Homo sapiens: one gene and its partners. The protein of the gene in region 4 purifies or fractionates together with the protein of the main gene of each other region. This does not show direct contact. Each region holds a gene or a part of one and is shown on either strand. Other genes may lie near its edges. The genes, in order: TNPO1, GEMIN5, CSE1L, RRM1, FARSB, TNIK and DNAJC7.

Evidence for each region.
Region 1: the proteins of RRM1 (region 4) and TNPO1 fractionate together in Homo sapiens (co-fractionation; one large-scale study listed by BioGRID). This does not show direct contact.
Region 2: the proteins of RRM1 (region 4) and GEMIN5 fractionate together in Homo sapiens (co-fractionation; one large-scale study listed by BioGRID). This does not show direct contact.
Region 3: the proteins of RRM1 (region 4) and CSE1L fractionate together in Homo sapiens (co-fractionation; one large-scale study listed by BioGRID). This does not show direct contact.
Region 5: the proteins of RRM1 (region 4) and FARSB fractionate together in Homo sapiens (co-fractionation; one large-scale study listed by BioGRID). This does not show direct contact.
Region 6: the proteins of RRM1 (region 4) and TNIK purify together in Homo sapiens (co-immunoprecipitation; one large-scale study listed by IntAct). This does not show direct contact.
Region 7: the proteins of RRM1 (region 4) and DNAJC7 fractionate together in Homo sapiens (co-fractionation; one large-scale study listed by BioGRID). This does not show direct contact.

Annotation. Positions count from the first base shown.
Region 1 is NC_000005.10:72,885,870-72,890,147, forward strand, and holds part of TNPO1 (transportin-1), read left to right. Parts: intron 1-1,200; coding exon 1,201-1,353; intron 1,354-2,208; coding exon 2,209-2,434; intron 2,435-3,916; coding exon 3,917-4,088; intron 4,089-4,278. UniProt on the Homo sapiens protein: Functions in nuclear protein import as nuclear transport receptor. Serves as receptor for nuclear localization signals (NLS) in cargo substrates.
Region 2 is NC_000005.10:154,899,588-154,903,865, forward strand, and holds part of GEMIN5 (gem-associated protein 5), read right to left. Parts: intron 3,589-4,278; coding exon 3,493-3,588; intron 3,090-3,492; coding exon 2,952-3,089; intron 1,900-2,951; coding exon 1,752-1,899; intron 1-1,751. UniProt on the Homo sapiens protein: The SMN complex catalyzes the assembly of small nuclear ribonucleoproteins (snRNPs), the building blocks of the spliceosome, and thereby plays an important role in the splicing of cellular pre-mRNAs.
Region 3 is NC_000020.11:49,070,161-49,074,438, reverse strand, and holds part of CSE1L (exportin-2), read right to left. Parts: intron 4,235-4,278; coding exon 4,142-4,234; intron 2,154-4,141; coding exon 1,986-2,153; intron 1,872-1,985; coding exon 1,742-1,871; intron 1-1,741. UniProt on the Homo sapiens protein: Export receptor for importin-alpha. Mediates importin-alpha re-export from the nucleus to the cytoplasm after import substrates (cargos) have been released into the nucleoplasm.
Region 4 is NC_000011.10:4,132,492-4,136,586, forward strand, and holds part of RRM1 (ribonucleoside-diphosphate reductase large subunit), read left to right. Parts: intron 1-1,071; coding exon 1,072-1,167; intron 1,168-2,590; coding exon 2,591-2,779; intron 2,780-4,095. UniProt on the Homo sapiens protein: Provides the precursors necessary for DNA synthesis. Catalyzes the biosynthesis of deoxyribonucleotides from the corresponding ribonucleotides.
Region 5 is NC_000002.12:222,645,678-222,649,955, forward strand, and holds part of FARSB (phenylalanine--tRNA ligase beta subunit), read right to left. Parts: intron 3,119-4,278; coding exon 3,063-3,118; intron 2,449-3,062; exon of another isoform or gene 2,164-2,448; intron 1,320-2,163; exon of another isoform or gene 1,124-1,319; intron 670-1,123; exon of another isoform or gene 1-669.
Region 6 is NC_000003.12:171,068,372-171,072,649, forward strand, and holds part of TNIK (TRAF2 and NCK-interacting protein kinase), read right to left. Parts: intron 2,953-4,278; coding exon 2,852-2,952; intron 627-2,851; coding exon 477-626; intron 1-476. UniProt on the Homo sapiens protein: Serine/threonine kinase that acts as an essential activator of the Wnt signaling pathway. Recruited to promoters of Wnt target genes and required to activate their expression. May act by phosphorylating TCF4/TCF7L2.
Region 7 is NC_000017.11:42,006,856-42,011,133, forward strand, and holds part of DNAJC7 (dnaJ homolog subfamily C member 7), read right to left. Parts: intron 1-4,278. UniProt on the Homo sapiens protein: Acts as a co-chaperone regulating the molecular chaperones HSP70 and HSP90 in folding of steroid receptors, such as the glucocorticoid receptor and the progesterone receptor.

The DNA of each region.
Region 1 (4,278 bases), on a different chromosome or scaffold from region 4:
ACCTGAAGTTCAGAATGGAGGGGCTGCATCTGGTGAGAACCTCCTTGCAACATCATCTGATGACAGAAGGACACACTTAAGAGCTCAATTCACGCTTATAATAAGCCAACTCTCTTGATAACTAACCCACTCCTACAGTAACGACATTAACCCATTTATGAGGGCAGAACCCTTAAGACCTAATCATCTCTTGATAGGCCCCACCTCCCATCTTCGTTGCTTTAGGGATTAGGTTTCTAATACATGAACTTCAGGAACACGTTCCTACCCATAACAGTTAAATGATATTTTTGTTGTTCTTTTTGATTTTGTTGCTCTTGTCTAAATTATTATTATAATAAAATCTGGGTTGATTTATAGTCCCATAGTTAATTCTTTGTAAAGAGTATTTTCTAGCATGCGTTATGTTTCATGTGCCAGTGACTTTTCTTCCAGTTTTTGTGTCTAAAGTCCAGCTAAGTAATTGTCTGTTTAATTCTAGATGATATACTGCTGGAAATGTTAAGTAGAGTTAATAATGTATGTTTTTTGCGTGATTGTAACAGTGATTGTAATCATGATTGTAATATGAGTGTATCATATTGAATGGTTATGTTAGAAGCACTGAATTGAGTGGCACAGTATTTGTTTTACTGTATAGACAGAATTCTAGTATGACAGTTATGTACAGAATACAATGTGTTCACAATTAATTTGCCAAGTAAGTTCTTGTCATAAAAAATATTCATCTTAATAGAAAATGTTTTTGGCTGGGCATGGTGGCTCACACCTGTAATCCCAGCACTTTGGGAGGCTGAGGAGGGTGGATCACGAGGTCAGGAGTTTGAGACCATCCTGGCCAACATGGTGAAACCCCGTCTCTCCTAAAAATCAGCTGTGCGTACTGGCACACACCTGTAATCCCAGCTACTCAGGGGGCTAAAGCGGGAGAATCACTTGAACCTGGGAGGCAGAGGTTGCAGTGAGCCAAGATCGCACCACTGCACTCCAGCCTGAGCGACAGAACAAGACTCCATCTCAAAAAAAAAAAAAAAAAAAAAAACCACAAAATGTTTTCACGTGACAAACTACCTCCTATTCAATTGAATTCTTATTTTAAAACTCCGTATTAGAGATACGAATAAAATGTTACATATACAATAAATAATATATAAGTAATAAGAGGTTAATGTAATATTTTTGAATTAAATATTTCCTTAGGAAAATGTTCTGCTGCTGCCCTGGATGTTCTTGCAAATGTGTATCGTGATGAACTGCTGCCACATATTTTGCCCCTTTTGAAAGAATTACTTTTTCATCATGAATGGGTTGTTAAAGAATCAGGCATTTTGGTTTTAGGAGCAATTGCTGAAGGTAAGCCTAAGTCCAGTTTGAATTATGTAAGTTGGCTTCTTACTACTATTAGGTACTAATAAGGCTAGGCTACTTTAAGGAATTTCTATTTTGAACCAGATAACTAGTATTAAACAGCCATAGGCCGTCTTCTAACCCCAGCTAGATATTTTGCAAAATGTTTTTGTTATAATAAAGGTAACAGAGGCCAGGCATGGTGGCTCACGCCTATAATCTCAGCACTTTGGGAGGCTTAGGCGGGTGGATTACCTGAGATGGTTTCAAGACCAGCCTGGTTAACATGGCGAAACCACGTCTGCTAAAAATACAAAAATTAGCTGGGCGTGGTGGCATGTGCCTGTAGTCCCAGCTACTTGGAAGGCTGAGGCAGGAGAATTGCTTGGACCTGGGAAGTGGTAGTTGCAGTGAGCTGAATTCGTGCGATTGCACTCCAGCCTGGGTGACAGAGCAAGACTCCATCTCAATAAAAAATAAAAACAAAAAAATTAAGGGAACAGAATGAAAGGCTCTGATGTCTGAAGCATCCCCATTGCTTTAAAAAAAAATCCTTGATTCTTTAGGTAAGTATAGGAAACACAATAAGGCAAGACTCTCTTCATTCTCTATGAAGGGTTATTATTGATTTTGTCCTGGCAGTAAACATCTATTAGAAGAAATTGAAACACTGTAAGATGCTTGGGAGCAGGTAGCTCTAACTTCAGGGTTTTAAAAATAATTTTGGTATAGGTTATTGTAGTATGTGTATAGCAGTAGAAATATTCTGAATTTTTTCATAGATACGTGTTTTATTTTCATAATCAACCAAAATAATGTTAACTAAATTTTAGCATTTTGAAAGATTTATTTTTTTTCTAGGTTGCATGCAGGGCATGATTCCATACTTGCCTGAGCTTATTCCTCACCTTATTCAGTGCCTCTCTGATAAAAAGGCTCTTGTGCGTTCCATAACATGCTGGACTCTTAGCCGCTATGCACACTGGGTGGTCAGCCAGCCGCCAGACACGTACCTGAAGCCATTAATGACAGAATTGCTAAAGCGCATCCTGGACAGCAACAAGAGAGTACAAGAAGCTGCCTGCAGGTGGGACAGATTCATAACACAGTGTTCTTTGTGGCAGTGAAAAACTTAATTTTCAACCTTCTGATGGAGTGTTGGTGTTAAACCTATAATGAAGTGTTTCGTAATTGAAAATTTTCCAGTTATATCAGAAAGCTTAGTTTTCTTTTTTCTTCTTGGTGAAGTGTTTTGCAGGATCTGTAGCTTTTGGGTTTGCATATTAGCGTATTTTATACATTTTGTTTGGCCAGGAGAATTTTGTCATGTGGGTTTTACCTGATGATTTTGTAGATCTAAATGTGACAACATCGATCTTAGCTGTTTCTTCTTTGGCTCATTTTTCCCACTCAGTGGTTATTATAACAGAACTATCTTACACCCTAATTCCCTCAGACATCTGAACTAGTGATGGCAGGACTCCTACTCTTGAAGGAATAACAACGTTTGAGCAGATTGACATCCTTAGACTACAGGTCAACCACCATAACTCAGAAAGTCCCACAGGGACCTGTGGTCTGTCACTTACCAGTTAAAGGTCTTTGAGTGCTTAGTAGTTCTGCTCTAGTAGCCATTCTATTGGTTGGTTTGGTGGCTGTCTCTTTATATCAAGCCAGCAGTTGCTTTTATTACTACAAATATTCCAGTTTCCTGCAATATACCTTTATATTTTAAAAGGGCCTTCTGCTTATGTTTATAGTTCTTAATTTTTCGAGTAGGTTTGCTTTTACCATTGACCTTGATAGTAGGAAAAAATAACTGTTGAACAAAAAAAAGGAAAATTTTATTTTATTTTTTTTAGATGGAGTCTTGCTCTGTCGCCCAGGCTGGAGTGCAGTGGTGTGATCTTGGCTTACTGTAACCTCCGCCTCTCGGGTTCAAGCAATTCTCCTGCCTCTGCCTCCTGAGTAGCTGGGACTACAGGTGTGCGACACCATGCCCAGCTAATTTTTGTATTTTTAGTAGAGATGGGGTTTTGTCATGTTGGCCAGGCTGGTCTTGAACTCCTGACCTCAAGTGATCCACCCATCTTGGCCTCCCAAAGTGCTGGGATTGCAGGCGTGAGCCACCGCGCCTGGCAGGGATAGTAAATTTGAGTTTGACCTTAATCCATCTGAAGCAGTCATATCTGGAAGATATTAAGGGAGGGAGGATATAGATTATGTTTGAGATCCTATAATTTATTCATTCAGTACCTCGGTTTTTTTTTTTAGCTATTAATTGTTAAGCATATACTAAATGCTGAGTTTACATAAAGTCCCTGCCATCTTGAGACTTACAGGTTAGTAGGAAATACAAAGCAGCAACATAATTATCATTTATGGCAAGTGCTATGGAAGAAATCGGTAAATAATTCACAGTGCTGATGACCAGGGCTTTCATTAACAGATGGCTTAGACCATTTTAGGAAATTCCTGATTGGGTAAAACAGAACATAAACATTTTAGCAATTAAGAGTTAGATATATCTTACAGTCAATAAGTATTCTTTTTTTTTTTTTTTAAACAGTGCCTTTGCTACCCTAGAAGAGGAGGCTTGTACAGAACTTGTTCCTTACCTTGCTTATATACTTGATACCCTGGTCTTTGCATTTAGTAAATACCAGCATAAGAACCTGCTCATTCTTTACGATGCCATAGGAACATTAGCAGATTCAGTAGGACATCATTTAAACAAACCAGTAAGTATCTGTTAAGAACTATTAGGGAAAATAATGTGTAGCATAGTTACAATTAATAGATTAGCATATATTTGGAAATTAAGATGTTTTGGGAGATGTGAATAGTTAGCGTTAGCTACTTTAAGAGTATAGATCTTACAAAGGCAGCAAGTATATCCCCTTTCATGTGGTATTCTTAAAGTAAATACAT
Region 2 (4,278 bases), on a different chromosome or scaffold from region 4:
AATGCTAAGAGTCAGTTATGTGCTTTTTTATTAAAAAAAAAAAAATGTGTTGACATTTGCACTGATTGTGCCAAAGCAGTGATTGGGAAACCTGGCATCTAAGAAGGAAGGCGGTGGCTCTTACAGTGGAAAAAAAGGAAGAATGCCCTTAATGAAGCAGTAAAAATTACAAATTTTACTAAATCCGTCAAGTCCAAAACACTTTAATATTCTGTGTGACAAATGGGAAGAACATTTTGTGTTCTCTGCTGCATTCCAAAGTAGAATGGTTGTCTCTAGGTAACACCTGTATGAACAAATTACAAGCTAAACTGGCTGCTTTTTCATAGAACCTTCTTTCTTCTAAAAAAAAAAAAAATGACTAACATAAATAACAGTTATTCAGTGTTGGGTATTTGGCAGATGTTTTTCTCAAAAATGAACAAAGTAGGCCTATCACTTCATTAAAAACAACCAACAGTATTTGTTACTAATGATAAAATGCGAGTTTTCTAGCAAAAATTAGAATTTTAGAAAACTTGTACCTACCACTTGTGTGCCTGAGTTTCCCATAAGTTAGAATTTTCTGATGAGACTGATGGTGATAGTAAGGAATGTGGTATTTTTGGGTATTTTATAATAAGATATGTTAACATTTGGAAGATCTGAACAACTCAGTAAACAAATATTTTTCAAATGACATACAACTGCTGAGTTGTAGCCAACATAAAGTTGTAGCTGGGAAAAAAGTGTTTTATTAGATTAAAGTGATCTAGAGAGAGCAATATTTTGAAAGTATTTTGGGACTTCTACTTCCAGCCATGATGGAGTAACTGGGACCAGACTTACCTTTCTGCCATAAAACTAAAAAACTGGACAAAATGGCTGAAACAACTGTTTTTAGATACCAGGTAACAGGCAGCATAGGATGGTCAGCCCTAAGAGAACAGAAACAAATGATGGGAGCCCTATCTTGGCACTGGCTTTCTGCCCAAAGCCATTTTCCTAAGGAAAACCTGAGCAAAACCTCAGCAGTCTCTGAGTTGAGAAGAGGAAACAATGGAAATCTGAGGGGCAGGATACTAGGAAGGAGGAAGCTGTCCAGAGAAAGACATCCACAACTCTGCCTGGAGATCCCATTGAGTCTTTGGCTAAATTAAAAGCCACGTATGTAAAGGAAACTCCTTAAGTCTAAACAAAGAATGACTAGGTAACTGTAAGCTGAACAATTCCCAGAGCTTACTCAGGACTTGGAGACATCTGAGTTTTGATTTGTTGAATGCATAAGGCATTCAAGAAAGATATCAAAATGTAGGAGGTAATTCTAGAATATGATAAACTTGCCCTAACGAAGTTTAAAAACAAGCCATGAAAAGATCAAGCTGATACACAACTTTACTACTTACCAAAACAAAGTTTAACACTCTCTAAAGGAAGATAACAAAACCAAAGCAGGGTAGAACAAAAAGAAAATCTTGGCCAAGCATGGTGGCTCATGCCTGTAATCCCAGCACTTTGGGAGGCTGAGGCACGAGGATCGCTTGAGCCCAGGAGTTGGCAATCAGCTTGGACAACACAGCAAGACTCCGTCTCTACAAAAAACTAAAAAATTAGTTGGATGTGGTGGCATGCACCTCCTGAGTAGTCCCAGTTACTCAGGGGGCTGAAGCAGGAGGACTGTTTCTTCTATTTATGTTACTTTAACAATAGAGAAGTTTAGGTTATTTTCACATTATGTCCAAGTATTATCCCAACTCTAGGACCACACAGACCTGTAAAAATGGTTTGACTTGAGCAGCTCCACCGCTTCATACACTTTGTGGATGGAAAGTAGGTGAGAAGCAGCCTTGACATACTGATCCTGAAAACACAGCTGTTTGGCAAAAGCTTCCACAGCCCATAGCCACACATGGTAGCCAGCTGAAAAAATAAAAGATGGTGGTTAAAAAAACAGTTGAAGAAAAAGTAAAAACAATACCCAGTACATTTGGGTTGAAAAAGCCTTGTTTTCGTCAATGCATTCAGCAGAACATTTAGATACCAATTCAGCTGCCATTATGGATCATCTGCTTCATCTACACATTCTGAAGCATCAATTGTTTGATTATGTAACACAAACAAAACAGTACAAAGTTGAAAAGATACAGAAAGGAATGTGTGAGCACAGTTAAATTCCTATAATCATAACTGATGAGCCAAAGGTAACATGACTACGTGCTTTTTTTTTTTCCCTTTCCTTTTATTGTTTTTTGAGACAGGGTCTCACTCTGTGGCTCAGGCTGGAGCGCAGTAGCACAATAATGGCTCACTGCAGCCTTAACCTCCCCGGGCTCAGGTGATCCTCCCACCACAGCCTCCCGAGTAGCGGGGACTACAGGTACATGTCACCATGCCCAGATAATTTTTTAATTTTTTTGTAGAGATGGGCTTTTGCCATGTTGCCTAGGCTGGTCTCAAACTCCTGGGATCAAGTGACCTGCCCACCTCGGCCTCCCGAAATGCTGGTATTACAGGCATGAATCAGGAATCACCACACCCAGCCTTTTTTTTTTTTAAAGAGACAAGGTCTCATGATGTTGCCCAGACTAGAATACACTGGCTATTCACAGGCACAATTAACAGAGCGCTATAGGTCTGAACGCCTAGCCTTAAGCAATCCTCCTGCCTCAGCCTCCTGAGCAGCTGGGGACTACAGACTTGTGCCATTATATCTTTTAAAATTTACTAGACATGGCCAAATTGTCCTTCAAGAAGTTCTCACCAATTATGCTTTTGCCAATTAAAGTGTCAGTGACCTGCTTTTTTTCAAAGGGGTTGGGTTGGATTTATTAGTTTGTCTATTGCTGTCTATTGCTTTGTATCTATTTGTAAGTGATTTCAAGCTTAAGACTGTGCTAAGAGCCATCTTTAGTGGACGTATCCTAGAGATGATAGAGCTTTTGTTGAAAAGAACAAACAAACAAAAACCATACCTGCTGGTGCCATAGCCACAAGGTTGTCTGTCAGCTCCCCTCTTTCTGCTGCAGTCTGGAGAACACCTTTGAGATCTCCTTTCCAAAGCATAAGCTGGTGAAATAACTCAGGGTGGCCATTTTCTAAGTGACCTTTTCCTGTTTGAAAGAGAGATAATGTTTGGAAGGTGTTTCAGAAACATCTGTTACTGACTTGTAGGAAAAGAAAGGCAAGATAGAAGAGAAAGTGAGCTCCTAAAATATGCAGTCATTCTCTGATGGGTGTCACCTACCAGAGTGATTACAGTAAGATCTGAAGCCCACTTGGTCACTGTACACTCCCACACCTTCACATGTACTCAGAGTGAATGCTGTATGTTTAGGATCCTATGATGATGCAAGGGTTGTATCAATATGTAAATCAGGGAGCTCAAAACCTAGTTAGCTGACACGTAAAACTAACCATTATAATATCACAGGATGACAGCCATCAAAGAGGTGCACACAAAATGTTGGGAAAGTATAAAGATGGATGAGATTATGTTGACTGGATTTGTCTCACCTTCAATATCAATCATTCTATACAGGGTAGCCCTGTCTGTGAAAAGCCCCAGATGAAATCTTTCCTCAACATCAGCAGACACATCTTCATTCAGCTCTGTTAATTTAAAAAGGCAAAAAAATCAGATGAAGTCATTACATTGATTACAGTTTTCTCTCCAATAACTTCCGAATATATGTTTGGAACACCCACTTCAGACACTGAGAGAATCAGAGCTCTAACAGAGACTCCTGCAGTTACAAAGGGAGCAAAACACAAAAACACTTAAAATGTTAAAAGTGAACCCCAAATCAGAACATATTTAAGTGCAGTAAAAAACAAGCAAAACAATATTAATAAGCAAAAGAAAGTCCTTAATATTCACTGGGACTTACCACAAGGGGATTCAATATTCATCCTTTGCTTCAAAAAAAAAGTCAACTGAGTAATTTTCCAGTAAGGAAAATAATGTGAAACTAGGTTAACTATGTAAGTTATAGGAAGTCATCACAAAGCTCCAAAAAGGCTATGTATATAATAAAAGCATAAAACATCTCCATCAAGACACAAGAAACTGATAATAGTTTGATTATGCAATACAGACAAAACAGTTCAAAAATTCAAAAGAAAGAAACAAATGGAAGCCCAGGATAGTGACTACCCTTGTTAGGGTAGTGGGAGACAGTAACCGGGAGGGAGGATGGTCCTCCATTCCTGGGGAGGAGAAACAGAGGACTGGGAGGAAGATTTACTTTGAAAAAAAAATTAAAAAAAAATTTTTTTTTTTAAATAGAGAGAGGGTCTCAC
Region 3 (4,278 bases), on a different chromosome or scaffold from region 4:
ATTTTAATCACTATTATTTCATTAAAGTCATTTCAACAACAAATAAGTAGAGTGGACAATGTCAGAAATGGCCGGCATGGTGGCTCACGCGTGTAACCTAGCACTTTGGGAGGCTGAAATGGGAGGATCGCTTGAGCCCAGGAGTTTGAGACCAGCCTGGTCAACACAGCGAGATCTCATCTCTATTTTTATCATATAAATTAAAAAAAAAAAAAAGTCTACACACACACACACACACACACACACACACACACACACACACTGCAGTTGTATGATCATGTCTCACTGCAGCCTCCACCTCCTGAGCTCAAGCAAAACTCCCACCTAAGCTGCTTGAGTACCTGGGACCACAGGCCCATGCCACCATACCCAACTAATTTATTTATTGTAGAGATAAGGTTTTGCCATTTTGGCCAGGCTGGTCTTTAACTCCTGGGCTCAAGTGTTCCTCCCACCTCAGCCTCCCAAAGTGTTGGGATTAAAGGTATGGGCCACCACACCCAGCCAGAAGATTTATCCTTTAAACATATTTTTATGAAAACACAACAGGAAATAAAATCTCACGCTATATTGTCCTTAATTTCCTTATTTTGTTCCAGATGTAATTTGAAAACCACTGATCTAATAACTATTTTGATATAAAACAAAATCTTGGCCTGGCATGGTGGCTCATGCCTGTAATCCCAGCACTTTGAGAGGCTGAGGCAGAAGGATTGTTTGAAGCTAGGAGTTTGAGACCAGCCTGTGCAACATAGGAAGACCCCCATCTTTATAAAAAATAAAAAACTAGCTGAGCATGGTGGTGCACGTCTGTAGTCCCAGCTACTCAGGAGGCCAGGGTGGGACAATGACTTGAGCCTGGGAAGTTGAGGTTGCAGTAAGCCATAACTGTGCTACTGCACTCCAGCCTGGGTGACACAGTGAGACCCTGTCCCCAAAACAAAAAACACAATCCCTCCCACCTTCATTACTTGTTCTTCACAACTGTTAGAACAAGGACATACATTTTATAAATATAGGCTCTTAGCACTATAGTTTAACCTTAAGCACAAACTAAGTGGGCTTCAACCTTGTATTTATAAAGTTATCATTTCTATTCTCAAGTCGATTGTTTAAAAACAGCTATTTCTGGGCGAGGTGGCTCAGAAATGCAATCCCAGCACTTTGGGAGGCTAAAGCGGGTGGACTGCTTGAGCTCAAGAGTTTGAGACTACCCTGAACAACATGGTGAAACCCTGTCTCTACCAAAAATACAAGAAATTAGCCAGGCATGGTGATGTGTGCCTGTGGTCCCAGCTACTCAGAAGACTGAGGTAGGAGGATCACTTGAGCCTGGGAGGCTAAGGTTGCAGTGAGCCAAGATTGCATCACTGCACTCCAGCCTGGGTGACAGAGCGAGACCCCTGTCTCAAATAAATATATAAATAAATAAAGCCAGCTAAAAATTCATTGAAATAATAAATGAAACAAAATCAAATTCTTTCTCTAAATAGAAATTCCAGATAGTTTATCTTCTTAGTGTAAAGGAATTTTTGAAGTCTTATTTAATATTTCCATGAGAAAACCCTCACAGGGCACAACAAAACTCATTACAGATACTACATTTTCTGTCTTGGTTTAGAAAATAAGAAATAAATGACATACAAGTTTTATCCAGTAATAAATGAATTAGACTGAATATGTTACAAAAAACAAACACAGACTTAGTAGATTTATACTAATATACTTTTGCCATAATTACCTCTAAATTCCATGTTAGGCACAATAACCTTTTCACAGATACTTGTCAGCGTGTTCTGGTCCTCAAATAGATTCTTATAATGAGGTCTCTCACAAACTGAAGCCAGAAATTGAATTGCATTACTTACCAACTGGAACAAAACACAAAAACAAGAATATTTTTAAAAGCAAAACTCAACAGCTTATTTCTTGGAGGAGATAGGGAGAGAATGTCTTTTAATTATTTGTCTCCACCATCATCTTACCAAATCATATTTAACCTCTTGACCCGTTGTAACTAGTAAATTCCAGATGGCTGTAACAAAACGAGGCAGGTATCGCTGGAATTCTTCATCGTACTTTTGTGCATAGAGTGCGGCATTATCACAAATCTGGGATTTTAAGAGCTCCAATAAGCCGGCTTCCTCTTCATCCTCACATAAAAGAAAACAAAAACTCCAACATACAACTCTAATGCTAACATAAGTAAGAGGAGTAACTGAAATTCCTGAACTAGACTCTTTATCAATTAAATCCAAATCAAATCAGTTATTGTAAACTACAGCTATGCCACCACCAATCTTTTCACCAAGTCTTTCAAATAAGTTGCTGAATTACAAAATATTTCCGTATTAGATTCAAACAGTATATTCTGGCTGAGTGTAGTGGCTCACGCCGGTAATCCCAACCCTCTGGGAGGCTGAGGCTGGAGGATGGCCTGAGGCCAGGAGTGGTTTTTTTTTTTTTTTTTTGAGACGCAGTCTCCCTCTGTTGCCCAGGCTGGAGTGCAGTGGCGCGATCTCAGCTCACTGCAAGCTCCGCCTCCTGGGTTCACGTCATTCTCCTGCCTCAGCCTCCCAAGTAGCTGGGACTACAGGCACCCGCCATCACGCCCGGCTAATTTTTGTATTTTTTTTTTTTAGTAGAGACGGGGTTTCACCGTGTTAGCCAGGATGGCCTCGGCCTCCCAAAGTGCTGGGATTATAGGCGTGGGCCACTGCGACGGGCCAAGCCCAGGAGTTTTGAGTCTAGCCTGGGCAACACAGCAAGCCCCCAAAATAAAAAAAATCAGCTGGGCATGGTGGTGCATACCCATAGTCCCTGCTACTTGGGAGGCTGAGGTGGGAGGATCACTTGAGCCCAGGGAGGTCGAAGCTGCAGTAAGTCATGATCATGCCACTGCACTCCAGCCTTGGTGACAGAGTGAGACAAGGGAAGACATCAGAGTAAGAACAAAAACCAAAGCCAAAACCAAAACTCCCTCACACTGATTACTTAAGGCATAAATAGTAGCACAAGGTAGCACATGGTTAACTGGGCAAAAAGGTCCTTGTAAGAATTCTATCCAAAAAATTTCCTTGTGACTTTTGTGTGAAGAAAAGTTTTGTTTTCTGAAGGAGTGTTTTTCCCTCCCATTGGACTGAAATAATTATTTTATGAGAGCTACATCTTTTAAAGTTCCTATTAATATAGTCAAACTCTGAGACAAAATCTGTTGTACAACGATAGTAACAATTTCTTTCTGTACCCCACTCTTAAAACCTGATTTGAATCACCAATTCTAATTTTTAGTTTATTTGGTATTGAAATATTTTTAATATTTTGTCTTTTGTCTCTTCGGAAAGAAGGTCATAAATATATTAACAAATGAGTAGCACAGAATAAGTGTTATATGTTTAAAAGTACACAATATAAAACCCATATCAGAAATATTTACAAATTACAATCTTTTACCATTTTCTCTCTTTCTCGAGCTGTGGATAATTTTTTCTTTTTCTGAGACGAGGTCTCCCTCTGTCTCCCAGGCTGGAGTGCAGTGGCATGGTCACAGCTCATTGCAGCCTTGCCCTCCTGGGCTCAAGGTCAAGGGATCCTCACAACTAAGCCTTCTGAGTAGCTGTGACCATTAGCATGAGCCAACACATCTGGCTAATTTTATTTTTATTTTTTGTAGTGATGGGGGTCTCCTTACATTGCCAAGGCTGGTCTTGAACTCCTGGGCTCAAGGGATCCTCCCCACCTTGGCCGCCCAAAGTGCTGGGATTACAGGTGTGAACCACCATGCCTAGCCAGATGATTTTTAAAAAGGGGCTACCATTATAGAGTTTTAAGTTTTCTTAGTATCTTCAATGAAAAATAATTTTATTTCATGAAATATCCATAATGTCACTACTTTAAAGACCTACTTTCAATAATGTAATGAAACAGCCTTATATGTACACTATGGCTTAAGCCAAGCCCATGATAAGAGTAATTCTGTATACTACACACACCAAACATGTAACATCAAATAGAATCAAATATTATTACAGTATTGAAATTTTATCTTTTAACAATGCAAGAGTAAATAGGTTTCCAGACTGTAGCCAAATAACTCTTAATGAAAGAAAAAGACCACTCAGGCAACATTTTAAATACTTACATCAGTTTGTAAAAGCTTATTATCCAATGTTAAGAGAGTATGAAAATTATTCATCCAAGTTTCCATATTATCTTCAAAAAATTCAGGGAGATCCTACAGAATAAACACTGACTTGAAACTTTTGATTAAAATATTAA
Region 4 (4,095 bases):
ATGTTTAATTTGCCCATTTTCTTAGTTTGGGTGCAAACTTTGATAAAGACAGTCATCTTCATCTCTAATATTATTATTTGTTATTAATATTTCAGCACAATAGGCATTTAATAAATAATCTGTTGAAAGAATGAGTGAATGAGGGTCGAGTATGAAAGTAAGTTGTTGATAGTTAAACATGATGTTTAACCATTATGTAATCATAGTGATATATTCTATAACTTCTCCCAGATGCTTAAGTTAGGATACTCAAAATGTATAAAGAAGTATCATTTAAGGCAGTGGTTCTCAGACTTGGTTACCAATTAGAATTTATGGTGGGTGAGACCAGTGGTTTTTTCTTTGTTTTTAAGGTTCCCAGGTAATTCTTATGTGTAGCTAGGGTTGAGAACCTCAATTTAAAAGACTATTTGTGAATTTCCAGATATCTTGAAGTAAAGTTCTGTAAAGTTCGAGAAGGATACGTTTCCAATTTTTTTAACCTAAGTATTTATAGATTTACCCATCTTAGGCGCTATTCTTTTCACTTTTGCAAACGCCATATGTTTCTTTTTTAATGAAAATATTTTTTCAGCTTTATTAAGGTATAATTGACAATAAAAATTGTGTATAAAACCAAGGTATACAGTGTAATGATTAGATATGTGTATATATTATATAACGATTACCACACCACAATGTTTTTGTTGTCGATACTGTTTTTGAGAAAATGTCTCACTTTGTCACCCAGGCTGGAGTGCAGTGGCATGATCTTGGCTCACTGCAGCCTCTGCCTCCTGGGTTCAAGCAATTCTCATGCCTCAGCCTCCTGAGTAGCTGGGATTACAGGCATGCTGCGCCACCATGCCTGGCTAATTATATTGTTTCTTGAATAACAGATGTCAAGATCTTAAAGGAATATAGCTTTCGTGTGGTGGCATTGATGTCTCGTCTTTATAAAAGATAGAATTTACCAAGCAATCTAGCATTAAATAACTCTTAAGTGATTTTAGTTTAAGCTTCAAAGCTGTAGTCTTTTCTAAGCAGTCACTGTTATTTATTTCTTCATACATTTTCTGCTTTTCCATTCAGATTGTAAATCCTCACTTATTGAAAGATCTTACCGAGCGGGGCCTATGGCATGAAGAGATGAAAAACCAGATTATTGCATGCAATGGCTCTATTCAGGTATAGAATGAAAATGAAGTGTGCTCTGCAGGGGCTGAGTTGGACATTGTGGTACCTCCTCACTCATGCTAGACAATGGAGAGAATGACTTCATTGTGTTCATCTAGGTTTTGCTTGTGTAGCTCTGTTCACCTCTGCATTGTTGTGCTAGGATTGTACACATCTTTACATAACCCTTACCATCTTGTTTTTATGCAATAATATAAAAAAGTAGTTCTCAATTTTTCTGCATCTTAGAATCAACTGGGGAGCTTTTAAAATCCTGAAGCTTAGGTTGCATTCCTTACCAATTAAATGTCTAGGAACAGGAACCAGACATCAATTTTTTTTTTTTTTTTTTTTTTTTGAGACGAAGTCTCTGTCGCCCAGGCTGGAGTGCAGTGGTGGAATCATGGCTCACTGCAACCTCTGCCTCCTAGGTTCAAGCGATTCTCCTGCCTCAGCCTCCCAAGTAGCTGGGATTACAGGTGCCTGCCACCACGCCCGGCTGTTTTTTGTATTTTTAGTAGAGACAGGGTTTCACCATATTGGCCAGGCTCCTGACCTCAGGTGATCCGCCTGCCTTGGCCTCCCAGGGTGCTAGGATTACATGCATGAGCCACCGTGCCTGGCCTCAGACATCAATAATTTTTAAAGATTCTTTTGGTGATTCCAAAGTATATCAAAATTTGGGGGATCATAGATAGAAAGACTGAAATTAAGAGAGTCAAGCTTAATTAAAAATCATGGTTGACGACTGATAGTCCAAAAGACAGAGTCACAAATCGTGTAAATATTTGCAACTAAGAGTCAAGAGGCATTTATTTGCAGATAGAGGTGTCTGGCTAAATGTTGGTCTGCTTAGCAACACAGATGAAGAGTCCTATAACAGTTCCATATTTAATGACAGAAACTGTAGCATTAGCCAGTCTGTGTGTTTTAATGAAAGTTAACCCTAGGCCTAAGAAAACCTGATTTTGGATTCCAAAGGGAGTTTGAAATCCTAGCTTATTTAAAGGGTTTTATCTCATTGCTTCCCTTGGTCCCTGTGAATTACAGCCCTTATTTTTTGTGTTTTCTGCAAAACTCAAGGGTCATTTATTGCTGCTTAGCTCTGACTTTTCCTTTCTTTAAGTGCCTCTAGAAGAATGAATGTTTGGGTCATAAATCAATTAAAAAATTAAAAAATTGGTTTATGACCAACAAAAAAGGGATGCTGAAATTACTATCACCAGATTGATATTTGGTTGGTTAGATGGGGGTTTTGTTCAACTTTCTAAATAGTCTTGGTAAACTTGATAAGGATCATATCATATGATACTGAATGGTAAGGTCAGATCTGGCAGGAAGTAAAATGAAGATCAAAGCTTGTGTCACTATTCTATTAATCATACACTGCTTTCTTTAACTGGAGTAAAGTAAACATTGGGTTTTCCTTCTTTAGAGCATACCAGAAATTCCTGATGACCTGAAGCAACTTTATAAAACTGTGTGGGAAATCTCTCAGAAAACTGTTCTCAAGATGGCAGCTGAGAGAGGTGCTTTCATTGATCAAAGCCAATCTTTGAACATCCACATTGCTGAGCCTAACTATGGCAAACTCACTAGTATGCACTTCTACGGCTGGAAGCAGGTTGGTAGAGAATATCAAGGAGTACTTAATTGCCAGCTTGAGATATTTTGGCATTGGAATGATTTTATGTTTTAGCCACCTATTAAATATTATCACCTAGAAGTTCTTTAAGTTCAAATCCAGAACGTTAAAACCAACCCATGGTTTTTGTACCAGAACAGGGTCTTGCCTTGGATTTTCTTGTTTCTGTTAGGTTTATTTCCTTCTTAGGTTTGAAACCTTGTAGTTACCTGTGATGCTTTCCTTCCTTTACTGTCCGTACAATTACCAAGTTGTGTTGATTGTTCCTTTGTATTATTTCTTAAATATCTTCCTTCCTTTTCTGCTGCTGTTATTCTAAACTGACCTTATTGCTTCTAGGATCTCTGCTCCCAGCCATTTTGTGTGCATTACCACCATTCCTCAGATAAAACTTTGCACACGTCAACCCGCTATTCAAAAACATCCATTGTTTTCTCACTTTATAAAGTGAAAGCCAGCTTACTTAGCTAGTCGTTGCCAGCTGTAAAGTCTGGTGATTTTGGATTATGTTCTTATTCCCTGATAATGTATTGGGTATTTAAGTAGAATTATAAATTTGTTTTTTAATTTAACATTTATTGAACATCTAGTATGTGCCAGGACTGAGGATACTGAATAGAAGATGATGATCTTTATCTTTGAAGTCTTATAGTCTGTTGTTACACAGAGACACAGTCTAGCTCTCTAAACAGTTATAACCTAAGGCAGACATATTGTCTTGGGCAAACCTGGAAGTCATATGCATAAAAACAAAGACAAAAGAATAAAAATGTTTGACCTTTCCAAAGAGATAAGCCTGTTTTAGGAGTGAAAAGAACAGGATATTTCTGTCTGACTCACAAAGCATTTTTGAGAGTACTCCTAGAGGAGATAGAATTCCAAGTTTAAAAAAAGTTTGATCTGGTTCATGGGAATGTATTTTATTTTATGTATGTATGTATGTATTTTGAGACAGAGACTCACTCTGTTGCCCCGGCTGGAGTACAGCGGCATGATCTTGGCTCACTGCAACCTCTGTCCTGGGTTCAAGTGATTCTCATGTCTTAGCCTCCTGAGTAGCTAGGATCACAGGTGTGTGCCAACACACCTGGCTAATTTTTGTATTTTTATTAGAGATGGGGTTTTGCCATGTTGGCCAGGCTGGTCTCAAACTCCTGGCCTCAAGCAATTCACCTGCCTCGGCCTCCCAAAGTGCTCGAATTACAGGTGTGAGCCACTGTGCCTGGCCAGGAATGTATTTTATTTTATTTTAATATTATTGTTTTATTTTATTTTATACTTTTTTAGACGGAGTC
Region 5 (4,278 bases), on a different chromosome or scaffold from region 4:
TTACATAATACGTTCCTTCAGTAATATATTTTTCAAGTATTTTACCATAGAATTTCTAAAGTACTTTGTCATTGACCCCATAATTTATTATAAAGTAGGTCCCATAATCACATTTTTTGGAAGTTGCTGAAATTGAGATAAAAAATATTGTTTTTTTATGAGAAAAACTGGACAAAATACAGAATGGCCAAAACTAGATTAACTGGCTCAGTTATGTCTACTAGGTGAAAGAAAATACAGAATCTGTTACTGTAGAAATTTTAAGAGGTTTTGAGTCAGTTCCAGTATAAAAATAAGGCCAAAGTTCTCCTGTAAAATCATCATTAAAAGTACAGAGAAGAGATCTATCATTCAAATTATAAAAGGAAACCTCATTCATTTCACAGTCTAAAAAAATGCCAATCTTACTAGGTGTTACTTTTGGCAGCAGAATAATTTCCTTATGGCCCAATACAATATAATTATTCCGACTAGATTACCAAATTCTCCATAATCCATCCTGTACTAAAATTGGTTGACTCTTCCTCCTTGTGGGAGGAGAGTCACTACAGACACCAAGAATCCATTCAGGCATGTCTTTAACTTCTACTTCCCGGTACTGCCTGCCACAATTTTATCCCTTAGAACCCAGAACAGCTGGGAGCAGATAAAATCTTCTTGGGTTATGAGGTAAGTTTTGTGTTGTATTTCCATATCGCACAGTTTTTCTATCTTCTGAGACTATAAGTTTACGATGTGCTGCTTCAGGATCTAGAATTACATCTACTTGAAATCGCTTGATAATTTTGTTTTGGCCACAATATTGTGGAGACAGATGGTAACCATATTCTTTTAATTTGAATAAAAAAGGTTTAGGGAATTTTAAATTCTTATGTCTGTGATAGATATCCTTAACATCAGCCAGTAATTCCAGTTCTGACTTCACATATATGCTCTCTATCTTCTTTAGTAGATATTTTAATGAGGAGGTATAATCTGAAAATTTTGTTAGGCTTTCATTTAGTTGTGCTAAAATATCCATCTCGTCATCTTGTAATTGCCCAAAAACAGTCTCTTGCTCATTTTGCAGAAATAACCTAAGTTGCTCAAATTCAGACTTGACTTCTTCTGCCGTATGTTTTACCTTTTTCTTCAGTTCCAGTGATTTTCTGGTTTGTATAGTTATGACTTTTTCAATTAGTTCCACTCTCTCCTTCCACGGTGCATTGTATTGCTCCAGTTTTTTCCTGATAGGAGGCAGCCTTCTTTATGGGCCAAACACAGCGATGCTGGTGATCAGTGGACAAACTGCACCTTGGACATAAAAGCTCTAGGTCTTTCTGAGAGAAGAAAGTCAAAACCTGATTATGCTTCTTACACACATGCTTCTCTTCCTGCCTCTTCCTCTTGCTTCTTAGCTGGAGTTGCTTAGCAATTTCAGTCAAACTACCCAGCTGGGGATTGCTTATAAATTTCCTTTCTGGACAGCACAAGTGGCAAAAGGGGCAGGGGAAACTATCATCTAGATCCTTCCAGGACATAATGATGCAGGAGAGACAGAAGTTATGCCCACAGCTGATGGTCACTGGGTCTTTCAAGTAGTCCAGACAGATGGGACAGCTAGCCTCTGCTCGGAGGTCAGCCAGGGCTGTCACAAATTCTACGGAGCCTGGAACAAAGATGGTAGGTAAGGTAATTCTTTTATTTTAGCAAGGCCTAGCTCTCTAGAGCTCAAGACCCACTATGCAGTGGATTCCTCCCCAGACCTTGAAATCTGACCAGCTTTCAGTTTTACTGACTTGGCATGTTGATGGCAGCTTCTAGAAACTTGTTAAGCCCTCAGCTCCTTAGCTTCAGACTTCACAGCCTGCAGCCTATTGCATATTAGAACTTATTAGCTGGGCTGCTGCTCTTCCCACTAAATGAAATAAAGTCAAGTTTTCTTCAAGAAAGCAGCCTCAGGTCCAAGATAAGGACTCCTTCCTGTAATCCCAGCTACTCAGGAGGCTGAGGCAGGAGAATCGCCTGAACCCAAGAGGAGGAGGTTGTGGTGAGCCAAGATCGCGCTGTCGCACTCCAGCCTGGGCAACAGAGTGAAACTATATAAAGCACATTGGGCCAGGCATGGTGGCTCACACCTGTAATCTCAGCACTTTGGGAGGCCAAAGCAGTGGATCACTTGAGGTCAGCAGTTCGAGAACCAGCCTGGCCAACATGGTAAAACCTCGTCTCTCCTTGCATTATAATCACCTGGAGGGCTTGGTAAAAGGTTGCTTGGGCCACATCCCCAGTTTCTGGTTCAGTAGGGCTGGTTTTTTCCTAAGTTCCCAGATGATGCTGCTGGCCTGCGGACTGTACTTTGTGAACTTATGCTGGAGCAGATGGATCAGAAACCCCGGCCAGAGGATGCTCAGGACCCATCAAGCCCCCGCGAGGAAGGACTCAGACCCCCAACCCCACCAAATTAAAGTATGTCTTTAATAGATAATCATTATTAACAATATTAAAATGTATAGCCGACTTGATTTTTTTAAATATTGTAATCATTATACAATCAAAAGTCAAAGAAAATGCTTCCTCATTTTTATAAGCAAGTCCTTAAAAAATATTAGTTCATTTTACAAGACCAATGAATATAGTAATGCATTAGTACTGGTTGAAGAGGCACGGAGGAAGGTTATGGGGGCAGAGGAGCTGAAGGAGGAGGCGCTGGAAGTGAAGGAGGCAGGGTAACTCTGGTTGAAGCAACATTTCTACTGCTTCTTGGTCCCTTTCTGTGATTAATTTGCCAAAGGAGGGAGCTTACTTTCATACTGGGGTTATCTAACACATTCTATCCATTTCCACAGCATGAGCCTGGTAACAAGGTGATTGTAGATGGAATAAGGCATGAACTCCTTTTGAGATTTTAGTCAAGGCAACAGACAGACATGGAGCTTAGCCCTCTGAACACAGAAATCATGGCCCACAAACATTATCACCTTAGTCTAACTATAAGGTAACAAAGATGAAATACAGTATAACCCTGAAAAATAAGCTTATGCACACAATCTTTGAAAAATAGACAAATATCCAATACATACAATTTCATCAAGCTCCAGACCAAATTCAAAACATAGTTCATCAAATTCTTCGTCAGCTAGGAAAATAAAAAAGGAGATGGTTAATTTCACTCTGTTCAGTATAAGTGAAAACTACATACAAACTGCATTTTCTTATTACTAATTGCCTTACACCAATCATACTACTAAATATCAGGCATCACATATTATCATTTAAAAACAAACAGGCCAGGCATGGTGGCTCATGCCTGTAATCCCAGCACTTTGGGAGGCCAATGTGTGTGGATCATCTGAGGTCAGGAGTTTGAAACCAGCCTGGCCAACACGGTGAAACCCTGTCTCTACTAAAAATACAAAATTAGCCAGGCATGGTGGCGCATGCCTGTAATCCCAGCTACTTGGGAGGCTGAGGCAGGAGAATTGCTTGAACCTGGGAGGCAGAGGTTGCAGTGAGCCGAGATCATGACATTGCACTCCAGCCTGGCTGACAAGAGCGAGACTCCGTCTCAAAAAATTAAAAAAAAAAAAAAAAAAAAAAAAAGCTGGGCCAAAAAAATTTAAGATAAAAAAAAGAAAAAACTATTAAAGGCTTGATTAATCTACACTAATATCAACTGTAGTTTAGGTTACCTGCACTGGGAAGTTTGCATGTACACAGAAGAAAAACACCTGTTCACCTGTTAAGTAGAGATCAGATATAAAGTAGGCTCCAAATCACAGATCTCACACAACAGAATGTCACATAAGTCCTATCAGGTAAAATGGTCTGAGGTGGCCTGACACTTTTGGCTTTGAAGCCAAGTCAATCAGAGTTTGAATTCTATCCCACTTATTAGATCTGAGAGTTTGGCACCTTATGTAAACTTTCTTGGTATCTTGTGTCAACATTACAGCTGCCTCATCTATAAAATGGTATTTCACAGCCATTATGGCATGGTACTATTGGAAAGATTTAAATGCTAATGCATAAAATGGACCTGGCATAGTACCCTGAGACACAGTGAGTCTACAATAATTAATAGTTTATTAGCAATTAATAAAATAAGTTCTCTTCCTTATTTTAATATTATATCCTACTGTTTAGCTTTTCAGGGTTCTCACATTACCAAAAATTGAACACAAAACATCATTAGCAGTATATTCTAGCGAAAACTGGTCTTAAGATTCCTGATTCAGACACTAAATTTCAATTTAACATCTATGTACTGAGTACCCACCTTATACCAGGCACTGTACT
Region 6 (4,278 bases), on a different chromosome or scaffold from region 4:
ATGCTAGAGCCACTGTGTCTGACTCCAGTGTACCACACTGCCCTCAAGCTGAAGAGAGGAACTAAAAATAGCAAAAAAAGAATTTTCTCCAATAAATTAGTACCTGACCATTGGCTTTCTCTAACATAAAATGAACGAATTTCCCTTCAAAAACTGAATGTGGAAACTTGTCTACCGAATATAATTCATGCCCTTGAAAGAAATATGTCATATTCATTTTAATCTAAAGTCCAAAGAGACAACATGTAAATGCCAAATGATTTCTATTATGTATTCCCCAATTTTAGGAAGTCATAAAAATTAGTTAAATTTATATATTTTAGTTATTAAAAGCAGTATACTTAATGAAGAACGAAAGTCCATTTGCTGGTTAGTAAAGTGTGCATGACTTCTACTAAAACTATGCAAAACAAATCTCTTTCTACATGCAGGCTGTTGTACAGAGAGCCCTTGAAAGTCTACTTCTGAGTACTTACATGAGATGGTATGTAGATATCATAAGAGTTTCCTGAATCAACATCAATTACATGGAAACCAGTGTGTGAACCAAAAATAACCTTTAATCTTTGACCTTCTTCTACCGTGAGATCAACTAGCAGAGGCTTGTGCTGGAGATCTGCAAAAGACTTTAAAAATCACCCCATTAGTATCCGCATCACTCAAAGAGGCATCTTAATTTTTTTCCTTTAGCCACTGTCTAGAGGAAGTTAACTTCTAACTTTATTAAAGTGAAAAACTAGAAAATTTCTCTTTCAGTTTTAGGTCTGTTGATATTCTGGCCCTAGGAGGAAGGGTCTAGCATCCATTTGTGCCCCTTTCTCTACCCTTTGTCCTTCGGGGCAGTGAAGTTTAAGTTGGTGCACAGGTGTAAATTTTGATAGTGGTAATGTATATTAAAAACCTGGTGCCTGGGTATTGCTGTTTTTTCCTGTTTATTTCTGGCCTTTGTCCTCTGAAGAAGGCCCAGTCACCTCTCTGGCCCCCCTCTTTCCCATGTGGCAACCAGGCCCATCCACAGCAACTACCCTTTCAGAGACAGCCTGGGAGGGACAGCCAAGGCCGGCTGTTTTCTCAGCCTGTTTAGTATTAATGGGCATGCTCTGGTTTGGATTTTTCTTCAGTGAATGAGTAGGCATAAGATTGGCACTTTCTCTTAATGTTGGAATCTGAGACTTGGGTTTGGGTGGTAGAGAAAGAGGTGGGAGTGGAACATCACAAGATTGATGGCTTGCATTGACTATTTGGGTTTAACTAGAAAGCAAAAAGAGAGATCTTGCCAAGTTTGTCAAAGTTCTCTGTGTTTGAATCCAGAGCCCAAGCCCCAACTAACTGTCAAGTGTTCCTCTGCCATTTTCCTTTGCTATTTTTTAACCACGCTCTACCTTTGGGCCTTGAGATCTGGGAGAGCATTTGTGAAACTACAATTGCCTTAACTATAATGCCACTGCTACCTCTCAGACCCTTCTCTTCTCATCTTTTGCTAACACCATTCTGACAGCATGGGAAGCTCTAGCGTCCTGTCCTTGTCCTATGGGAAGGCTTGGCCTCTTGCCAGTTCCACTCTTTCCTGTTCAAGTCTTTGCCTTTGCTCTTCCCTCTTTCTGGGCTGGATAGGGTCTGTCAGAAAGAACATTTTGCACTCTCTCATGTGTCTCTGGGTCATAAAATAATGGCAATAACTTCAGAGCAAGAATGGGAATGGGATGTTGATTGAAAAGCTTTTGTGGAGATAGATTTTGGCAGAACAGGAGTACCACTTTGGCTTTTAGGAGTTATCCCTTGTTATTAGTAACCTAATGCATTCCAATTTTTTTCCATAAAAGTGAGGTCATGGAGGGGAGCCCATTTCCATTAATGAATCTATTTTCTTGAGCACATCAGAAGCCATCTGCCCTAAGGGAACAAGATAGAAGTGATTCAGCTCTGAAGTGGGCCTACATGGTGTTCCAAGGGCAGTTTTGCCCTTCATGAGAATGTGGCAGAAAATAATAAGGAGCCAAATGGAGATAACAGTCATAAAGGTGGGGAGAAAAAGTGAGAGCCAATGAGACATAAAGAAGTAGACAGACATAAGCTGAGAGAGAGAGAGACAGAGAGAGATCAGAGAGAGAGAGTGAGAGAAAACAGAAGATAAGTTCACTTGGGCTATGGATAGGTTATGCGGCTCTGAACACATCTGGGTGCCTGTAAGTACTGGTCCTCCTGGTATTCGGGTGTCAGCTTCATGAGCTGGGGTCAACAGGACTAGCATATCCCCATCCCACTCCTGGCAAATCTCATGAGTGACCAATCCAACCATGGTGGGTACAGACTTAGACAAGGTAAAAAAATGAAAAGGCAATCAAAATAGAAGAATGCAGAGAAACTAGGTCATTTCTGTAAGTTAGCACTGGGGACATATAAGCATCACCTGAGTTTTAGGGACTTCATTCAGAAAGATTTATGAGGATTAAAAGAGACTCAGTTTAACTCTGAGATTCAGTGCTGCCATTTGTCTGCCTTTTTCAAACAAAATATCAGGGAATACCCTGGTTTAGGTGGCTTTATAACAAATGTCATTGCATAAGATCATAATCAATGCTATGCCTACTAACCATTCTAAATGCCTCTTGAGGATGATGATTCATAGATCTCAAGGAGGAGGGCATACCCAAATTTTAATCTAATTTTATAGCATTTACAAATATTCAGTCTTTACTTTTGAAACAATAAACCCTAGAGTACCTACACTTTTAAAACAGGTTTATTATCTATATGAAAATTGGTATTGGTCTATATGGACTATTTTATTAATGGGTAGAAACGGAAAATTTTTAAAAAGCACATTTTAGATAATCACATCCCTGCTTACCTTAAATGCCATGAATTTATGATACGGTTTAGGAGCCCAAGCATATATTTCCACAGCATTCTTTAAGGCAATCACCAAAAATTTGATCCTTTCATATTTAACTGTAATAGAAAAATTATGAGTGAAAAAGTACATCAATTTACTCAAGTTCTTTGTATTAATATTAATGAATGTATAAGCAACAATATGTAAATTTAAATATTGATGTTGGGTGTCAGCTTCATGAAGGTGATATTCCTGGTGTGGGATTTTTTCATAGATACTGATTTAGCTTCCCTTAGCGAACTTTGGTTGGCAGAATACTTATGGCTTTTGCTTTATATTGAAGACTTTTCATCATCCAGAGATATAACTGCTTAGGACTGTCTTTAACACTAGGTCTTGATGTTGATATTCATTGTAATAAGAATGTGCATAATTTCCTTCATGTTAGCTTGCCTGGCTTTTACGTTCACCCATATTTAAGTAGCTGAGAGCAGATATGGCAAGATGGTAGAAAAATTAGCAAATGGGCAGATATAAAGGCTGCCATTTGCTTATTATTTATATTTGAATTCCAATTACCAAGTGAAATAATTGCTTATTTATGCTTCTAACGAAAGGGGGGTGTTAGGAGTCTTGGGTTCTGTTAGTGGCTTAAAGGGCTACGAATACTGACAAATCCTTTTACTCTTTAGAAAGATGGAATATTAAGCATTGTAAATTCTATGGACAGAAGCTTAGTTAAATGATTGAGTCCCCACAATGCTTTTGCCTACACAAAGTAGTACTCAATAAATGCTTATTGAATGGAAAAATGGAAGAACAGACTGTTGTCTGGCATTCTCTTCATTACTCTTACCTACGTGTGTGTCTCTGATAGAATAATAAGCAATGTTTACGGTGATGACCTTGAGAAATTGAACAATCCTTTAAGTGCCTTCTGAATCTTTTGCTGTTAAGTGTGGATTCTAATTCTTAGAGAATTCGTAATCCACAGTTGGTACACATGGCAGTCAGTTTCTTGGTAAAATATCTCAAGAAACAGAATATTCTGAGTCCTAAAGAAACTAGGTAGGAAAAATTTTAATATACTTAAATGACATTAAGTTTCCAGTTACTTGCTTTATAACTTTTCATGACATAAAGTGTTTATTAGACTATTTTTGCTGATCTCTTCATCTGAAACCTAGGAAAAGATCCACAGCTCTTGGCATTGAAGGAACATACCTCAAAATAATAAGAGCCATATATGACAAACCCAGAGCCAACATCATACTGAATGGGAAAAAGCTAAGAGCATTCCCCCTAAGAACTGGAACAAGACAAGAATTTCCACTCTTACCACTCCTATAGTATTGGAAGTCCTAGCCAGAACAGTCAGGCAAGATAAAAAAATAAAAAGCATCCAAATTGGAAAAGAGGAAGTGAAATTATCTCTGCTGATG
Region 7 (4,278 bases), on a different chromosome or scaffold from region 4:
TTTGGGAGGCTGGGCAGGCAGATCACAAGGTCAGGAGATCAAGACCATCCTGGCTAACACGGTGAAACCCCATCTCTACTAAAAGTACAAAAAAGGATTAGCCAGGCAAGGTGGCAGGCGCCTGTAGTCCCAGCTACTCAGTAGGCTGAGGCAGGAGAATGGTGTGAACCCGGGAGATGGAGCTTGCGGTGAGCTGACATCGCGCCACTGCACTCCAGCCTGGGCAACAGAGCAAGATCCTGTCTCAAAAAAAAAAAAGAAAAAGAAAAAGATACTTTTCTTTTCCTTTAGGCTATTAATAATAATACTTTATACTGCCAATGAGTCAATATCCCTTATGCATTCCTCTTATATTTACTACTCCCCAAATGTCGCCTTACTCTATGATTGTTGTGCTCCATTTATTTTATTCAGTCAAACTTACTAGTTGCCTGTTGATCTAGAAATGCCCTCCACCCTTCAGAATTCACGGGATCTTGGCCAGTCAGAGTAGAAATTCTTTCCTCCTTCCCACAGTCCGAGACCTCTTGTCCCCAATGGCATGTCACAGGGCCTGTTTCATGTTGCACTCTCCCTGACCTTCATGACAAAATAAAGTAAAAGGAGCCCAGGAGCCTAACTTCTATTCCATCTTACCAAAAGCATATCATTTAGATTCTTCTTTAAGAAAAAAATTTCTTTTTTTTTGGAGACAGTCTCATTCTATTGCCCAGGCCAGAGTGCAGTGGTGAGATCTCGGCTCACTGCAATCTTCACCTCCCAGGTTCAAGCGATTCTTGTGCCTCAGCCTCCCTGGTAGCTGGGACTACAGGCACGCACCACCATGCCCAGCTAAATTTTTGTATTTTAGTAGAGATGGGGTTTCACTATGTTGCCCAGGCTGGTCTCAAACTCTTGAGCTCAGGCAATCCACCTCCTCAGCCTCCCAAAGTGCTAAGATTACACACATGATGAGCCACCACAATTGGCCAGAAAAAACTGCCTTTTTTTTTTTTTTTTTTTTTTTTGAGACAGAATTTCGCTCTTGTTGCCCAGGCTGGAGTGCAATGGCGTGATCTCAGCTCACCGCAACCTCCGCCTCCCAGGTTCAACTGATTCTCCTGTCTCAGCCTCCCAAGTAGCTGGGATTACAGGCATGTGCCCGGTAAGAAGTTTCTTTTTTAAAAAAAAATCTAGGCTGGGCAAGGTGGCTCATGTCTATAATCCCAGCACTTTGGGAGGCCAAGGAGGGTGGATCACCTGAGGTCAGAAGTTCAAGACCAGCCTAGGCAACATGGTGAAACCCCATCTCTACAAAAATACAAAAATTAGCCGGGCATGATGGAGGGTGCCTGTAATCCCACCTATTCGGGAGGCTGAGGCGGGAGAATTATTTGAACCCAGGAGGCGGAGGTTGCAGTGAGCCGAGACTGTGCCATTGCACTCCAGCCTGGGCAAGAGTGAGACTCCGTCTCAAAAAAGAAAAAAAAAAAAATCTACTATTCTACAAGTGAAATGTCAATATAAGTTTCACATAGATAAGTGGAAGTCACAGGTATAGATATATATATATAGATATAGATTTTTTTTTTTGAGACGGAGTCTCGCTCTGTCACCCAGGTTGGAGTGCAGTGGCGCCATCTCGGCTCATTGCAAGCTCCGCCTCCTAGGTTCACGCCATTCTCCTGCCTCAGCCTCCCAAGTAGCTGTGACTACAGGCGCCTGCCACCACGCCCAGCTAATTTTTTTGTATTTTTAGTAGAGACGGGGTTTCACCGTGTTAGCCAGGATGGTCTCAATCTCCTGACCTCATGATCCGCCCGCCTCGGCCTCCCAAAGTGCTGGGATTACAGGCGTGAGCCACCGCGCCGGGTCAGACATATATTTTTTGAGACAGACTCTCACTCTTGTTGCCCAGGCTGGAGTGCAGTGGTGTGATCTCAGTTCACAGCAACCTCTGCCTCCCAGGTTCAAGTGATTCTCCTGCCTCAGCCTCCTGAGTAGCTGAGATTACAGGGCCCCACTACCATGCCTGGCTAATCTTTGTTTATTTTAGTAGAGATGAGGTCTTGCCATGTTGGCCAGGCTGGTCTTCAAACTTCTGACCTCAAGTGATCCGCCAATCTCTGCCTTCCAAAGTGTTGGGATTAAAGGCGTGAGCCATCACGCCGGGCCATAGATATATGACTTGGAATAATTCTATAAATATGGCAAGGTATTTATGCTCGGTGCTTCATCCAGAAAAAAATAGAAGGTGAGCGCTATCCAACTGCTACCTTTTAGCAAAGCTATCTGCTACTCAGCTTTCTTTACCCAATTTCCTACAGAATAGATAGTTTTCACTTTAAAGCACAAATGGAACAACCCTCCACACATCTCCGCTAATAAAGAGAAGGCAGAAGATGAAGAAAATTCCTTAACATACCAGTTCAAATTGTCCTCTGGGTGGACATTCAAGGAGAAGCCTCAACACGGGCAGAGTCAGAAGGGACCCAAAATGCACCAGAGGAGTCACAGACTGTCTACACAAAGCAGCAGCACTCCCTACTGTTCAGGCAGGGACGGACACCAGCCAGCAAGCTGTGCCTGGCTATGCAGCTGGCTATGCCTTATTCAGTAAGGAAGAAAAAGCAAGCAACCAATTCAATCCCTACAGAAATCCCATCACTGCAGGCAGAAACATATTCACTTGGAAATACTTGTCTCAACGGTGAGTTGGAAATTTATTTTAGGTCCTTAAATGAGAGGTGTCACAATCTATTACATCTACCTAACCTTCACTTATCCCTGGGGAGAGGAGACCCAACAATGAAGCTACTTCTGGGAAACATGCTTCTCTGAAACCATTCTGAGGATACAAGTCACTGGCTTTTCAGCATTAGCCAGAGGCTTGTTTTCATAACATATCCCCAAACCCACCATTTTCCATCCCTCGGTTCCCTATTCTGTGACATCTCCCACTATAGGGACACCAGCACCCATCAAAAATTTAAAACTGAGGAACTACAATTAAGGAAAAGGCTGCTTTGCCCTGGCGCAGTGGCTCACGCCTGTAATCCCAGCACTTGGGAGGCCGAGGCGGGCAGATCCTGAGGTGATGAGATCAAGACCATCCTGGCCAACATGGTGAAACCCGTCTCTACTAAAAATATAAAAAATTAGCTGGGCATGGTGGCATGCAACTGTAGTCCCAGCTACTCAGGAGGCTGAGGCAGGAGGATAGCTTGAACCCAGGAAGCGGAGATTGCAGTGAGCCGAGATCGTGCCATTGCACACTCCAGCCTGGAGACACAGCAAGACTCCATCACAAAGAAAGAAAGAAAGAAAGAGACAGACAGAAAGAGAGAAAGAAAGAGGCTACTTCCTAGGCCGGGTGCAGTGGCTCACGCCTATAATCCCAGCACTTTGGGAGGCCAAGGCGGGTGGATCACCTGAGGTCGGGAGTTCGAGACCAGACTGACCAACATGGAGAAACCCTGTCTCTACAAAAAAAAAAAAAAATACAAAATTAGCCGGGCGTGGTGGCGCATGCCTGTAATTCCAGCTACTCAGGAAGCTGACTCAGGAGAATTGCTTGAACCCGGGAGGCGGAGGCTGCAGTGAGCCAAGATTGCGCCATTGCACTCCAGCCTGGGCAACAAGAATGAAACTCTGTCTCAAAAATATATATATATAAAGGCTGCTTCCTGAGTTTTTTTGGGTGGAGTGGGGTGGGGTGGAGATGGGAACTAGAGTGGGGAGGAGCCTGGATTGTCAACGGTATTTCACTTCTCAAAGTTGTCTTGGTTCCTTAGTTCAACAGGTGGTTAACTGTCTCAGGGCAAACTGTCCAAGGAAGAACTCTCAGGACAGAAACTCCAAAAACAAGAGAGGGTCCTGCTTGCCCCTCACACTCTCTCCAAAAGTAATATTAGAATCAAGAGAGATGGTTAACACTGCTTATCTGACAATCTGGCCTCCCCACACAAATTGTAAGTCACATGCCAATAGAATTTCACGTCTCAGAATAAGACCTGAGAGTCATATATTCCTCCTATTACCATTCTCAAAAGCCTCAACCACTCATATTCTTACCCATGGTGAGGGTAAAACATAGGAATTGCCATTTTGATCCGAATGGGAGAAGGAAAAACAGTGTCACTCCAATAAAATGAATAGCCTGTTAGGATAACTGCACTTTGAATTTTGTTCTTACTTCAAAAGTTTAAAAGAATACCTGGAAAGACCTCTGAGTAACTTCCACATCACTCAGTGCTGGAGAAAGGGGACCAAAGACTAGTGCAGTAAGGGAGAAATGGG